Linked DNA regions of Homo sapiens. The protein of the gene in region 1 interacts with the protein of each later gene in a biochemical or structural test. Each region holds a gene or a part of one and is shown on either strand. Other genes may lie near its edges.

What was found. Proteins that work in one complex are often made in the same cells at the same time.
Region 2: the proteins of SORBS2 (region 1) and DLGAP1 form a complex in vitro, tested with the Homo sapiens proteins (one study listed by BioGRID).

Annotation. Positions count from the first base shown.
Region 1 is NC_000004.12:185,620,004-185,627,285, forward strand, and holds part of SORBS2 (sorbin and SH3 domain-containing protein 2), read right to left. Parts: intron 7,017-7,282; coding exon 6,829-7,016; intron 4,492-6,828; coding exon 2,911-4,491; intron 149-2,910; coding exon 60-148; intron 1-59. UniProt on the Homo sapiens protein: Adapter protein that plays a role in the assembling of signaling complexes, being a link between ABL kinases and actin cytoskeleton. Can form complex with ABL1 and CBL, thus promoting ubiquitination and degradation of ABL1.
Region 2 is NC_000018.10:4,452,054-4,459,196, reverse strand, and holds the start of DLGAP1 (disks large-associated protein 1), read left to right. Parts: upstream 1-3,889; 5' UTR 3,890-4,191; intron 4,192-7,143. UniProt on the Homo sapiens protein: Part of the postsynaptic scaffold in neuronal cells.

The DNA.
Region 1 (7,282 bases):
GGTAAGTGCTGTATCAAGTGTGTTGCTGTGAAAGACTCCAATGCTATTAAATTAACTACCTCTTTTTCTGGAGTTCCTCTTCTTTCCCTTGGTGCACTTCTCCCCATGTCAGTCAAAGTGGATGAGTAACTTCTAGGGGACTCACGGTCTATTGGAAAGAACAGGGCCAGTCATGGTGAGTATCCACTTAATTACAAGCCAACCTGTTCCGCCATTTTCCCTGGTGGCCACTACTTTTTTCCCCAAATTTGGAGAGACACCGTTATCGAACACATGGGCATAAAACTCATAGTTCATTACAAAGTTGTGAAATAAGACACAAAACAAGAGCATTTCAAAAGGAAAAATATCTGAGGTTGCAGAATTATAATTGTCTATATAAATATGATTACTACATTGCTGATTAATTATATTGCCACACCCAGTAAGACAATTTATAGTTAGAGGGATTTTTCATATAAATTTTTTCCAAAGCTTTCTGTTTCTATGCCTTTGCTTCTTATTTATAATTACTATTATAAGATTTACAGAGGATGGAGAATTTGAAAATAGCAACAATTTGTAGAAAAAGAAACATTTTGTGGAGTAATTTAAGACTGTAGTAATGAAAAAGAAAGAGATAAAACCAAAGAAAGTATGAGGATGACAGGAGGGTGGTGATGAACATTCTCCTTCTGCCTTACTCTCCCCTCTTCGCTCTTCCTCTGTTTTTAAATACTTATTGAATCTCAAGATGCCATGCTGTTTATCTACGACCTTCCTTTGTGCCCAGATGATAAACACCTTATCAGAAAGCAAAGAAACAAAGAGATATTGTTTCTTCTTACTCCAAGCAAAAAAGGGATAAACAGAAAGCATCATGTCAGTTGCCAAATTGCTTATGAAATATTGAATTATTTTTGTTCATCTTAAAGCAAAGCATAAATAATCACATTACAAAATTTTGATTGCATGTAGTTCTTAATAGTATCTTATACCTTTTGCACTTACGTGACTTACATATGGAGATGTAACTAGACATTAAATGTATTCCAGTAGTCTATGTTATAGAATTTTATCAGTACAACTGGGTCAATATTTGTCAATTCTTTCTTTTATCCCTTAAATATATCTAGTTATCCAGACTAACAAGAAGCATTAAAAATAAAATTTATTTTATCCATCTATGAAAGAATTTAAAGTGCTGATTCATAATAAGAAAACATTGTTTTAGGATTTTGACTACTTTGATGATGTAAATTCTAAGTTAATATACTTTTATGATCATAGGGCCTCATAATGATCATAAATTTTAAATTACTTTTTCTAACCCAGGGAATATAAGCTATTTTTCACTTGGGTGAAACACAATTGGAAAGTAAATATTTTACTAAAAAACAAAATACTTTTAAATGCATTTCAAAGCCCTTCCAAGTTACGTTTCAAAAATGTACTCCTATCTGCACATAAAATTGAGAGATGGTTATATTAGGATATTAAAAGCCTGGAGAAGGTAGCTAATTTATTAAAAAATGAGATTCTGACACATTTCAATTAGTGAAAATTTTGAATTGTAGAAATTGATTTTTTAAATTCTAATTTATTATTTTGAAGCATGTTGCTTCAGCCTAAGGGTAGGCAAAGATAAACGTAAGTGTATAGTGTAGCAAAAGTGAAAGCAAACATAAAGACTAAGTAGATTTGTGCAAGTTAATTAACAATCGAGCCATATTTGACACTAGTATGAACTGTGAATTATGTCTTTTTTTTTGTCTGAGATTATATTTTATACTATAAATTCTGAATTATTAGGGGTTTGAATCTCTTTTCTGTTATCTACTCTCTGTGTGACCTTGGACGAATTTCCTTTCCTCTCTGGGCCCAACTTCCAAAATTGAAAATGGCTTTTGAAATAACACCCATTTCATAGGCCTATGCCAGTTTTATTAGATAATGTATGTAAAGCACTCTGTAGTGTCTGGTGCATAGAAGTTTCTCTGTTGACCAACTTTCAGCCCGGAATGTTCATTCCAGCCTCTTAAAATTTACGTAGTGAACAGATGTGCTGTAAGAATTAATGAAAATAATTGGTCACAAATATTAAAACACCCTGGGCTGTAAGTTATATAAATCTCAAAAATAGTCCTCTGCCTTTCAATTGCTATTTATTCTTGTGTTGCCACTTCAAAGTTATCTATGAAAATAGAGTTTAGAGTCACTGTTAGCCTGAATAGTGTAATTCAAATTTCAATACAGGACTGTTTTAGCAGAAAGAGAAAGTGAATGAATTAAGTAATGGAAAAGAGAAAATGAATACACTAAATGGTGGAAATGGGACTTTTATATATATAGCTTAAAGATACATTCACAAAAATTTTATCACCATTGTGTCCTTGAAATGGAGAAAGCTATTAAACAAACCCTAATTTCTTTGTGTCCATCAATTACTAATCACATATTTCAGTTTTGCTTCTTGAATGTTTTGATATAGTATCTTCTATATAGAATGTGACAAATTATTTATTAACTGAATGAATATAAAGTTTTAACGTTAATATAAACATTTTTAAAAGGCTATTTGTGGAACTATAGGTTTTGATTCATGTCACAACGTAATTTATTGTCTCAATGTGAGTAGTGGTTGTTTCAACCCTAATGCTGAGCTACAAAATGGCCTTCCCTCTCGTTTTCGAAAGAGTAAATTTTTGTGAATTGATGATCACTTTAAGCCACACATCAAGTCCAAATATCACATGGGCAAATGAGAAATATTCAGTAAGACATATTTGCACAACAAGTTTTTGCTTCACAACACATAACGACGCCAAATGGTCTCCCAGCTCGGGAGTGATGAGATGTTGGAATGGAAAATGAAAGAGCTGGAGGGTGGGTCTCTGAACCACAAGGAAAAAGAAAGAAAAGCTCATCCACCTTGGAGTGCACCGCCACGGTCTTGGTGGTGGCAGCTGCTGTTGGCTGTGTCCACGTCTTGGAAAGAGGCACTGCGGGGCATTCTCCCGCAGTCATTCTGGTAGGGTGGACAATGAATAGCACCATCGGGAGGCAGTGGGTGGAGAGGCTGGTGCAGGGGGCTCCTCCTCAGCGCTCTCAGGGATGAGTTCCTCTCGGGAACATCTGGCAGCAGCTCACTGATGAGGCGGTGCAGGATGCTGTTGTCCGGCAAGCTCCCCCTTTTCTTTTCAGCTTTAATTTGGTCACAGATGTCTTTAAGGGCAGAGTCCAGAGCCTCAAACACAGATGCTTTACATTTTGCCTTTTCAGTCTGTTTCTTAGGAGCCGAATTTTTTTTCCTCCGGAAAGGCACAGGACTGACTAGAAAAGCAAGTTTAGAAAGGCCAGGGTCCATTTCTTGCCTTCTGGGCTCCTCGGTGTTTTCGTGTCTGGCTCTTTCGTGTTTTAACATTGTGGTAAATCGAGTGTAGGAGGCCGGGCACCTGCCTTTGCAGGAGCTGATGAGGTGGCGGTGGTGGTGGTGGTGGTGATGGTGGTGGTGGTGGCTGGATCCGTAAAAGCTTTCGGAGGATGTGAAGGAAAAGTGATCAAAGTCACTTTCACTGCAGAAGGATGACCCCTCTAGGTGAATGTAGTCACTGTGGTCGGACACAACCCCGTCCTGGTCGCTGTCGGAAAACTCCACGTGTGCTCGGGGCTGCTCATCGCTGGTGACTTCAATGTGAATGGGCACCAGGGCGTTAGACTGGCAGCCTCGCCGGCCCCGAGCGGGGGGGCCGCTTTGATTTTCTTCCTCCAGCAAATACTCAATGGAAAACCGCCTCTTGGGACATAGGCCATTTTGCGGTGGTTCTAGGGTTACGGGAGACAGCATGTCATCCCCTAAATTTGGCATGGATTTGGACTTCTGGATCAGCTTTTCGAATTCGGAGATGCGTGTGGGCACCATGTCCCGGGGCACCTCCTCCGTGGAGCACTGGCTCCAGGCGCGCAGCAGGTCCTTGTGCTGCTGCTCGCTCTCGTACTGCAGAATCCTGGACTTCACGGAGCAGATCACCTCGGAGTTCATCAGGTCCTTGCGGTTGATGCGGTGCATTTTCTTGTACATCTTCAGGAACCCCGGGGCGTTGCGGGCTGACCTGTGTCTGATCCTTGATCTGCCGTTACTGCGAACCTCCGGGACGTAGGGGGACCCCCACGCCATGGGGCAGCTCTCCTTGGAGTCCTCCTCACATAACAGGGAGCCCATGCTTTCCGACTTGACTTTCGGGTCCGGGAAGCTATCGCAGTCGTCGTTTAGGAGATCGTCACAGCTCCGGGATTTGATTTTGGGAGAGACGGTTTCTTCCGTGCTGCTCCAGATTTCTGCGTTTTGCCGGGCCATTTGCCAGCCGTTCTTGAAACTAATGGCTCTTGGTGAGTCCCGAGGGACATCCAAGTGCTGTCTGTAAGTGCTACAGTAATCTAACTCACTGGAGGGGTTGCCGTTGAGCCCTGAGTAACTGCAAAGGGATGGACATATTTTGCTATCATCCCCACCTTTTAATCCAGAGCAGCGTGGTAGAAGAGAGACATTTGGAGAAGTTAAAAGGTTCACAAAGAGAGGAGAGCATGTCAGTAAAGCATCAGACAGCATAGCAAGGAGAAAGCAGTTAGTGTGTTTTAATCTAGGTGCTGATTGTTCACACATGGAGCTTCAACTCTAGAGAAGAAGGTCTAATTCTAAAGCGAGCTAATACTTTTTCAGTGAATGTAGCTTTGCAGAGAGAGTTGACAAAACTGTGTATAAGAAGCAACCGACGTAAGCAAATACACCTACTCCTACTGCATAATTCATACACCTTTCTGACAATATTGTTTGCCAAAACACAATAGTGCTGCTTCAGCTGATAGCATGATCTGGTAGTGAAGGTTTAACAATTAGTGTCAAAAGTGTTATACCCTTACGCAATTTAATAGGGCCGGAATTTGAGCCTCATTTGATTCGTAATGATACATAGGTGAAGAAGGGTTTATACATTTACATCGAATTAATACTCTCATGACTATATCAAATAATTTTTTGTGGGTTTTAGATTTTAAAAGCTATAAGGCAAAGTATTCTCCAAAATTGCAAAATCAAAATGCTGTGAACTATTGCTGCTAACATTTTTCTAGAAAAAAATAGCTAAAGCTCTTTAAACAAACGAATTTACCTCTTAAATTGCTCTACCTTTAACCTTTTATTAGGTACAAAATTCTCATAGGAAAACTGAATATAATGCAAAACTTTCATCAGAGGTGCATATACCATGCTTTTTTTCTCGGAAGAGTTCTTTGAAAAATCATTTGCAATTTGATAATAGAGATCTACATTTGGCCTCAATTTTGAATAGCTATGGAAATGTTCTTTTGCTTTGCTGAGTCAACTAATAAATGAGGAGCCAAATTATATCTAATAGGACATTTTCTTCCTAGAAATAAAATCTAATGGAGGAAAATATCTCTATTCAATACTTATACCTTACAATGTTCTCTAAATTCTTTAAAAGTAGATAAGCACATTAGGTAGATCTGTACTGTCTGGGAAAGGAAGTTGATTTAACATTCCCTGTGATGAAACAAATATCTACATTTATCAGAACCCTTTTAACTTTTGGCTAGTATCCAAGAATAATAGGTCAATGGCATTTCATGACCTACTTGTTACCTTAAGATATTCATTTGAATAAGTGAGTTGAATCTGATAAGGCATCTCTGCTCCTCAGAGGAAAGATGTGATGGATGGGGCTCACACGCCCTGAACCATCAGCTGATATCACAGCTTTACAAGGCCTTAAAAGGGCTAGGCATCCACCTACTCAGAGTCCAATCATCACGACCAGAATACCTTTTGCACACAAATCAGCTACCACTTTTAACTACCATGTGGCAATGGTTTTAGTGACTATAGTTGATAGGTGTAGCTGAATTGGTCTGGTTTTATAGAAACTTACATTAGAGCTCAATTTCTTTACACATTTCAAAATCTCTTTCTCTTCTCTTTCAATCCCAAGATATTAGAGGAGATTGTGGGGTCCCACATTTGGTAGAGCCCTAGCTCCCTGTAGGGGCTGGTTCAATCCTCACTCTCCATCTCAGAAATATTCCTGTCCTCAAGGAATACCACTAAATGGTCTTCCAGAAACCAGAAGGAGTGACTTCTTTCAACAGTGAGCTCCCTACACTTGCAGAGAGGAGACGGGCCATCCAGAAAAAAAGGCTTGGTGATTCCTCAGTGATATCATTATGGTTTGGGACCAATTAGTCCTGACTGTGAGCTGCTGTGAATTGACCACTGTGTTACATGGCAGGAGGTGGATGCTCCACTGTTCATGTGAAGGTGGCCCAAAATATACAGCAAATGGCTAAAGAAATTAATAGGTCGGATTTTTTTAAAATCTAGAATTGAATAATTTTTTAAAACCCTCCAAACCAATGTATATTTTAGCCAACAATTTGCTCTGTTGCTGCTTGTAATTTTTATCCTATAAATTTGACTAATTTGCTAGTTGTAGAAACATTAGAAAATTTTGACTATATGTCAATGTTTACAAAATACATCTTTTAGTAGCCTGATGATACATTATTTGATACTTTCAATTTGTTTAGAAAGGGATCTATTTGGGGGAAAAAAGCATTAGCAGATGCTAGTCAGAGTTCTTTAAGCAACCTAAGTGGCTCGCCAGCTTGAGTCAGTCTGGGTGGGAAGAAGGCTATTGTTCTAAAACTATATTTTATTCCAGACACTGTAGGTGAGAGCTGGCACATGCCACTATCACTGGGCCAGCTTTCACACAGTGCTCTAGGCTAAAACGTAAACTAGTAAATTGTTGTGTTTTCATTTACTATGCTCACCTTTTGCTCTTGATGGGGAAGAAGGAGAAGAGCTAGTGAAAGACTTTGTAAGAGTGGTGCTTGATCCTGGGAGGTCCACTCGGCCTGGGCTAGTCCTGCTCGCACTTTGATCTCCCAAGCCCCGTGGTGGACCCACTGCAGGCTCGCTCTTCCTCCGCTTCCTGAAGTCACTGGCCATGCTTGCAGAACTGAAAGAAGGAATCAGATCTGTTTGATTGGCACTGGAGGAGGTTCGGGTGTGCACCAGAAAAACCGGTGGAACGTGCTAGTGACAATGGCGTAACTCCTAAACCTCTATCCCCAAAACTGCATTGCTAGGAACTCATCCCTTGATGTTCAACATGATTTCTCTAGAAGGATCTTTTAAAAAATGAATAGACCTTATTATTTATTTTGAGATGGCTTCTGGCTCTGTCACCCAGGCTGGAAGCGCAGTGGTGCAATCACAGCTCAC
Region 2 (7,143 bases), on another chromosome or scaffold:
AGGAAGTTTAGTAGTTGCTCGCCACCCCCGCAGCCATTGCAGCCGGGTCCCCGTGTACCGCCGCAGCCCGTATTGCAGGGCTGCCCCCCACCACCCTCTACGCTTCATTTTCATGGGATTTTACCTGTCTGACGATTTTGTGGTCTAGGAGTGCCGCCATTTTGATGTAACTAGAGAATCGGAAACTCTTGCATAGGAACCCTATCTGTCCATGGTTTCCAATTTCCTGTTCTCACCAACATGTTTGCTAACTTAACCAGCTTCGAGTTAGCTTCTCCAAAAGTAGGTATACTTTTCTGCGCTTCTTCTATAGTGAGGGCTACCATGCCACCCACTACCAATAGGGTGCTTTTGAAAGCATGCTCCCAACGCCTGGGTAAGCTGTCTGTATTAGTTTCCTGTGGCTGCTGATACAAATTACTACAGACTTGATGGCTTAAAACAACACAAATTTTTTAATCTTATAGCTCTGGAGGTCAGTCTAAAACCAGTTTAACTGGGCTAAAATCAAGATGTTAGTAGACCGGTGTTCCATTTGGAAGACTCTAGAGGAGAATCCTTTTTTCACTTTTTCTAGTTTCCAGAGATCACCTATAGTCTTTTATTGATGACCACCTTCCTCCATCTTCAAAGTGCATGATTTCAACCTCTGTTTCCATCATCCCATCTTTTTCTTCTGCCTTTGACTTTCTTGACTCCTTCCTATAAGTACCTTATGTTTACAATTGGGCCAACTAGGGTAACCCGGAAGCCCAATCACTGGTAAGGCACCAATCACTGGTTCCAAGGATTAGAACTTGGACATCTTTTCATGGCCATTATTCAGTGATGAAATGAGCCCAGATGACAAGCTCTGGCTTGCAGTAGTGCTTACAGGTGCTATGAGAATACAAATAAGGTAACCAGCCATAGGATATTTAAACAACATTTAAAAATCTCTTAACTAAAAACAAGCATACGAATAACAACAACGAAAAGAAGTGCTATCAGTTTTCCTTACACAATATCATTGTTTGTTTTCAAGTAACTATAAGAATTAGAATATAAATTTCATGGCCAAAGTACCAGATGTATATCATTTTTAAAAAATCTCAGCATCAAATCCTCCTTATTCATCACTCTCTGATTTTATTTTGAGGAATTACCTATCTTCAATTATGTATTCTTGTGGAAGTGTCATAAATCCAGGTGCCCACCCTCCATCCTGAAAGTCGAGAAATCAAACGTTTCTTCTTCCTGTCCTGGTATATATAGCCAGGGAGTCAGTGCCTCCATGAAGTTTGGCCAAGCAAATAAATACTCAACCCTGTGATTTTGAATCTTGATTCAGTAATGGAAGGTGAGAAAAATTTGGTATTTTCTCAAGTAGACTGTGCAGCACCAAACCAAACTGCTGTCTTTCCTGCTTCCTAGCCCATCGGTATTGCCTCAAATCCTGACTGTTTCCAAGACTGCTTTCCAGTCCTCTCTTTAATTCTGGAAGCTTTCAATATTTTTCTAATAAATTATTTTCACTTAAGTTAGCCAACTTTGGTTTCTGTCACCTACAGTCAGAAAAACCTAATAATAGCAATGTTACATCGATATTATTGTTGCTGGGTTAAATCTACCATAACAATTTTGTAAGAAAATTGATTTTCCACTTCAAGTAATTTTATTCACTGAATTCATCTAATTTGAGTTAGGGCCTGACAATGATACTGACCTTCTTATTTATGTGATGTCATTGGAAGAATCTATGGATTAAACGTGGTTAGATACCAGGATTAAGCTCTAGTATTCAATAGTACAGCAGAGGAACTATATAGTTTAATTTATTGTATATTTCAAAATAGCTAGAAGAGAAGAATTCTAATGTTCCCAATACGAAGAAAAGATAAATGAGGTGAGGGATATCCCAATTACCCTGATTTGATCATTATGCATTGTATATATATACCAAATTATTGTATCTACCTGCAAAATATGTGCAACTGTGATATATCAATTTAAAAATTAGAAAAGAAAATCTATTAATTAAACATATTTACAAATCTGGAAAGGCAAATTTTCCAAATTATGAAGGCTATTATCACATATCAGTATTTTGCCTTTTCAGGGAATCCGATTTGAAGTGTCCCTATAATAATTCTTTTTTTTTTTTTTTTTTGAGAGTCTCGCTCTGTCACCCCGGCTGGAGTGCAGTGGTGTGATCTCGGCTCACTGCAATCTCCACCTCCCGGGTTCAAGTGATTCTTATGTCTCAGCCTCCAGAGTAGCTGGGATTACAGGCGCCCACCACCAACCCAGCTAACTTTTGAATTTTTAGTAGAGATGGGTTTTCACCATGTTGGCCAGGCTGGTCTTGAACTCCTGACCTCAAGTGATCTGCCCATCTCGGCCTCCCAAAGTGCCAGGATTAGAGGTGTGAGCCACTGAGCTGGGCCCCTATAGTAATTCTTGAATTGTCTGAGAATATCTTTTAGATCATTGCTAAAGCGTCGGTGCTCATGATATTACAATGCTGAGAATTTACCTCCATTTAGTGGTTTCAGTAATTGTTATTTTCTTTAATGGAAAATCACTCAGTGAAATTGCAGGAAAGAGGTTATTTATCTGAGTCATATTTTTATGAAAACTGTTTTTCACTTCCTTGCATTTTTAGAAGTGTTGTCTTTAAAAGGATATTCTATTAATATTTATAATTAGACATCACACAAAACAGATGCTAAATCTTATGCTATAACTTCTGGATAAAATTACATAAAGATTATGTACTTTTTGGCATAATATTCCCTCAGGAAGCTGTAGAACAAAGGACATTCTCCATGAAGATGCCATTTCTTTTTTTAATAGAAGGAAATAATAAGGCAGTGATTAACCACGATTATTTTAACTACTGTAACGTTTGCAATTAAGTGGGCAGCGCAGGAGCTCAATAAATACTTAATTGATTTACTTTTTTCTCTCCTTGACCCACATCGCAATTCACCCACTCACGCCGCTATCCCTATTCTAACTTTGAAACCAAGTGGATTCTCTCTGTTTTCAGTTTGTGGAAGCGTGGTGCTCAGCCTGTGTGGAGGGGCCTGGCTTCCAAGTGTACTTGGGGTGGAACCTGGGGACTTTACCGAGGGCACAGGTCAGGAGATGAGATTCGTTTCGCTTTTTGAATTACCTTTTGGCCTGTACCAAGATGAACTGGTGGGATATATAGTGTCATCGAACCCGGGAGAGTTGTTGTGGAGGTGAGGAAACAGCTCTGAGGGATAACGGTTTGAAAGTAGTGGCGCTGGGGACGAACATGGGTCCCTGCGAGTCTGAGACTCTCTATTGCCCCCATCTCCTTGCTGCCGATTACTTCTTCAAAAATTCTCCTAGGGACCCTGAGGAGGGACGGGAGAGGTCAGCAAACCCTCTGTCCACCAACTTGATTTCCTGTGATACAAAGTGTCATGAGTTCTCCTGCTTTCCTCCCTTAAAAAAGACAAGATTAGGAACAACGGCTGGCAAGAGAGGAGGGGAAAGCTTAATTCTCCACAGATGCTGCGCAAGGGAACCAATGGGTCACGCCCACTCACGGGTGGCCGCCTCTCTGTTCCATCCCGGGGATGTTGGGCTTTCCCCTCGGTCCGGGGCGAGCGCACTTCCCACCCGGAGACTGAGCGGGCAGCACTCGCAGGCCAGGAGCGCGTTCCGGGAGGCGCCGGCGCCTCCCCGCGGCCTGGGCGCACGTGCCTGGGCTGGGGCCGGAGCCCGCGGTCGCGCCGCGCCGTAGTAGCTGGGGCGGGTGGGAGCGGCTGGCTCCGGGCCGCGGCCGCCGCCCGCCCGCCGGCTCCGGTGGTTGGGCGGAGGAAGCGCGGGACTCCTCCTCCCCACCGTATTAACATGCACCCAGGGGCGGGTCACCAGCCCAGCCTTGCAGCCCCAGCCCGCCGCGTCCCGGCGCTCAGCCTCCGCTCCAGAGGCGAGCGCTGCGCTTCGGGCGCCGCAATCTCCAGGACACGGCCTCGCGGACACCTTCCGCCTCGGGGAATCGGCAGCATAGGCGGCGCGAACGGCCGCCGCCGCCTCGGCTCCTCTCTCGAGTCCTTCCCGTCACCTCGCTGAGAGCCGGTCCTGGTCGCGGGGACATCTCTCTCCTTCCTCCGAGGCTCGTGGGACCAACGGACGGACGCAGCCAGCGAGGGCCGGACTGCGGGACGCGGCCAGGTAACGCCGGGCTGCGCCGCGGGGCTGGGGCGTGCGCGGCGGCGGCGGTCGCGGCGCGCTGGGTGGCTCCTGGCTGCTGCCTGCCGCGCGGTCGCCGCTTCCCTCGCCCGCGGAGGGGCTGCGGGCTGGGCTCCCCCGGCCGCTGGCTCGAGAGTCCGCGCTCCTTACCCTTTCAGCCGCCCGGGGTGCACTCCCGGGCCCTCCGGGTAACCTGGGATCTCGGGGGCGAGCGCGTCCTCTCCGGCCATGCGGTCCTCGCGGCTCCCCACGGGGACCCAGGCAGGGGAAGGATTTCTAATTGCGACAGGGTCCCGGAAGGGGGAGGGGAGGAGAACACCGGTCCCCTGTCCCGGTCATGTCCACCGGTCAAATTCGCACCCCCACCCCACCCCCGATGCACCTTGCAGGGGAGGAGGGGGCTGCTCCCCGCAGGGCTTTCTCGGCAGGCTCCTGGGTCGTTTGCAAAGCAAGTTGTTGCACTAGCTTTTTGGGTGACATTTTGGCATTGTGGAAAAGGACCAACTCCCCCGTGCGTTTGTAAGAGAAAGCCAAAGAAACAGAGACACAAAGACAGGCACAGAGAGAGAGAGAGAGAGAGAAATGGGGTCCAAGGAGGAGGTCACTGGAGAGTCGCCCCCTGCCCGCGGCCAAGGCCAATTCCCGGAGAATCGCGGGGCGGGCCGGGAGACCCGACATTCAGCGAATTGAATGAGCCGGGCTGGAACCAAGGCCAAACAGGGACCTCTCCTCTGGGCTGGGCGAGATAACACATTGCACTTTCATTGAGGGGCGGCTGCAGCTGGGAGAGGCACCTTCGGAGGGCCCGCGGCGATGAAGACCCTGCTTTCAGGACTTCGGCTGCTGCGCTTTTTGCGGAAGGCGCGCTGTCCCGGCCTCGCTGGGTGGCACCGGGAGGCCGTGGGAAGGGGTGGCCCGTGGCTCGGCTGCCGGCGCCGGAGACACTGAGTGCCTGTGTCCGAGTGCCGCGCTCGCCCCCGGCTGCAGGGCTTGCCTCCAGCCCGACCGTAGCGCTGCGGAATTTTCTGCTAGAGAAGGGGAGGATGTGCGGAGGGCAAGGGGTTAAAGGTAGCCAGGCGGCAAGCAGTGGGACGCTGGGTGGGAGATGTCACGTCTTTTGTGGATCCAGGCGAGACTCTTCACTCCTTACTCCTGACACAGAGACTGACTCCCGGTCGTGGGAGGTGAATGCTCCCTGCCTCCTTCCATAACACGTGAAGTTAGGGAATTACGAGGAAAGACATATAATAAAAGTACCAATTAAAGACAGATCTTTTAGCTTTTGTGGTCTTCGTGAATGGCTTCGTAGAAGGTGAGGATAGATCAGTCTAAGATGTGGTTAGACATGGAGATGAGAAATGCTGAGAACTAGGAAAGCGATTTTAGGTCCTAAGGCAAACATCCTGCAAATTATTTTTTACCCTGAAAGAGCTGTTCTAAAAAGAACAGCCCTTTGACTGTTATTTATAGCACGATTTCAGTTCAGGAAACGACTTTCTATTGGCCTAGGTCATTTTGCATATAAAGCAATACTTTTTATTCCTTGAATAAAACTTGAACGGAAATGACATGGAGGCAAGAAATTTTACAAGATCCTAATTTATTTCATGCCAGAAGAATATAAAGTTTTCTTTAAGTTTTTAAAAGGAAATTCAAGCCTATAAAGAAATAATGAATATGTCTATGCAAAATGTATGATTTTAAAAAGTTTAAGTTATAAACGCTACCCTTGGTTCAGAAAATTCATACTCTGGCATGAAACAAGAAAGTTCATAGAAGTCAGGTGTCAGTAGCCCTGTTCTTAATTTCCTTTAGATTTAGTACTTAAATGTAAAGTTGTTTCAGTTGGTTAGTGCCTTGCAATACCCCTAGTCGCAGATATAAAATTCTGTGAATTTTTAAAAAACTAATTTACTTAAGAGAAAATGTTAGTTACCTTGTGTGAGTAAAGAAGAATGTACTTGCATACATAGATTTTTTTAAATTTATAGCTATCTATTTCTCTATATTTCATTCTAAGATTAGTCTGCAAATACAATACTTTATCTCAAACATTACAGGCAATATAAATATGGGCAAAAGGAACTGGTTAACATTCTTTTAAATATGTCAAAATAATTTTCTGACAAGGCTTCTTAAATCTCACACAAGCAATTGTGCTTTGGGGAAATAATGAGTATATGAGTTTTCCCTAGGAGGGAATTTTCATGGTTTAGCATCTTTAATTTCTCCATCAACATAAGCTTTGTTCTGCCAGGACTAAAAACCCAGTAAAAGCATATTAGCGATTAGTGAAAGCAAATGGAGACAAGACCTTCCTTCCAAAATATTATGTAGCGCATATAGAGAAATAGCCTAAAACTAATTGTAGTGTTCTACTTTTTAAATCCTTCTAAGCTTAAGTGTCCTATTCAACCCAATTTGGGAATAGAAACTGCATGCACTTTGAGTTAACTCTATTAAATATGTGTGCCTTTGTTCCATATAGCCATTTAGATTGATTTTTTTTAAATATAAAATTAAAACTTGGAAGAGGGGGACTTGTTTTACAAAGTACTCATTTTAGTGAATATGAGCAATATTCACTAATATGCAGCAAAGTAATAGTTTCATCTACAACTTAATCGAGATGAATACCATATTCTTTGAACATCAACTCTTTCAGAAACAAAGAATTCAGTGTTTTGATTCTGATCTCGTAATATTTCAAATTCAGAGATAATAGTAAAATGTTATCTAATGTGTATTTCTATAGTGAAATTTCTATGATCAGCTCAAATTCATGTTACCTTCATGACCATTCCCACAAATTGCTCCACTGTTTATCAGAGGAGAGGAAATTGGTTTCCTCTCAGGAAGCATCCAATTAAAATCTACTTTTATGTAGATTTCATCTCTATAGAAATCACACTTACCTCTCTTTTCTTAAATTAA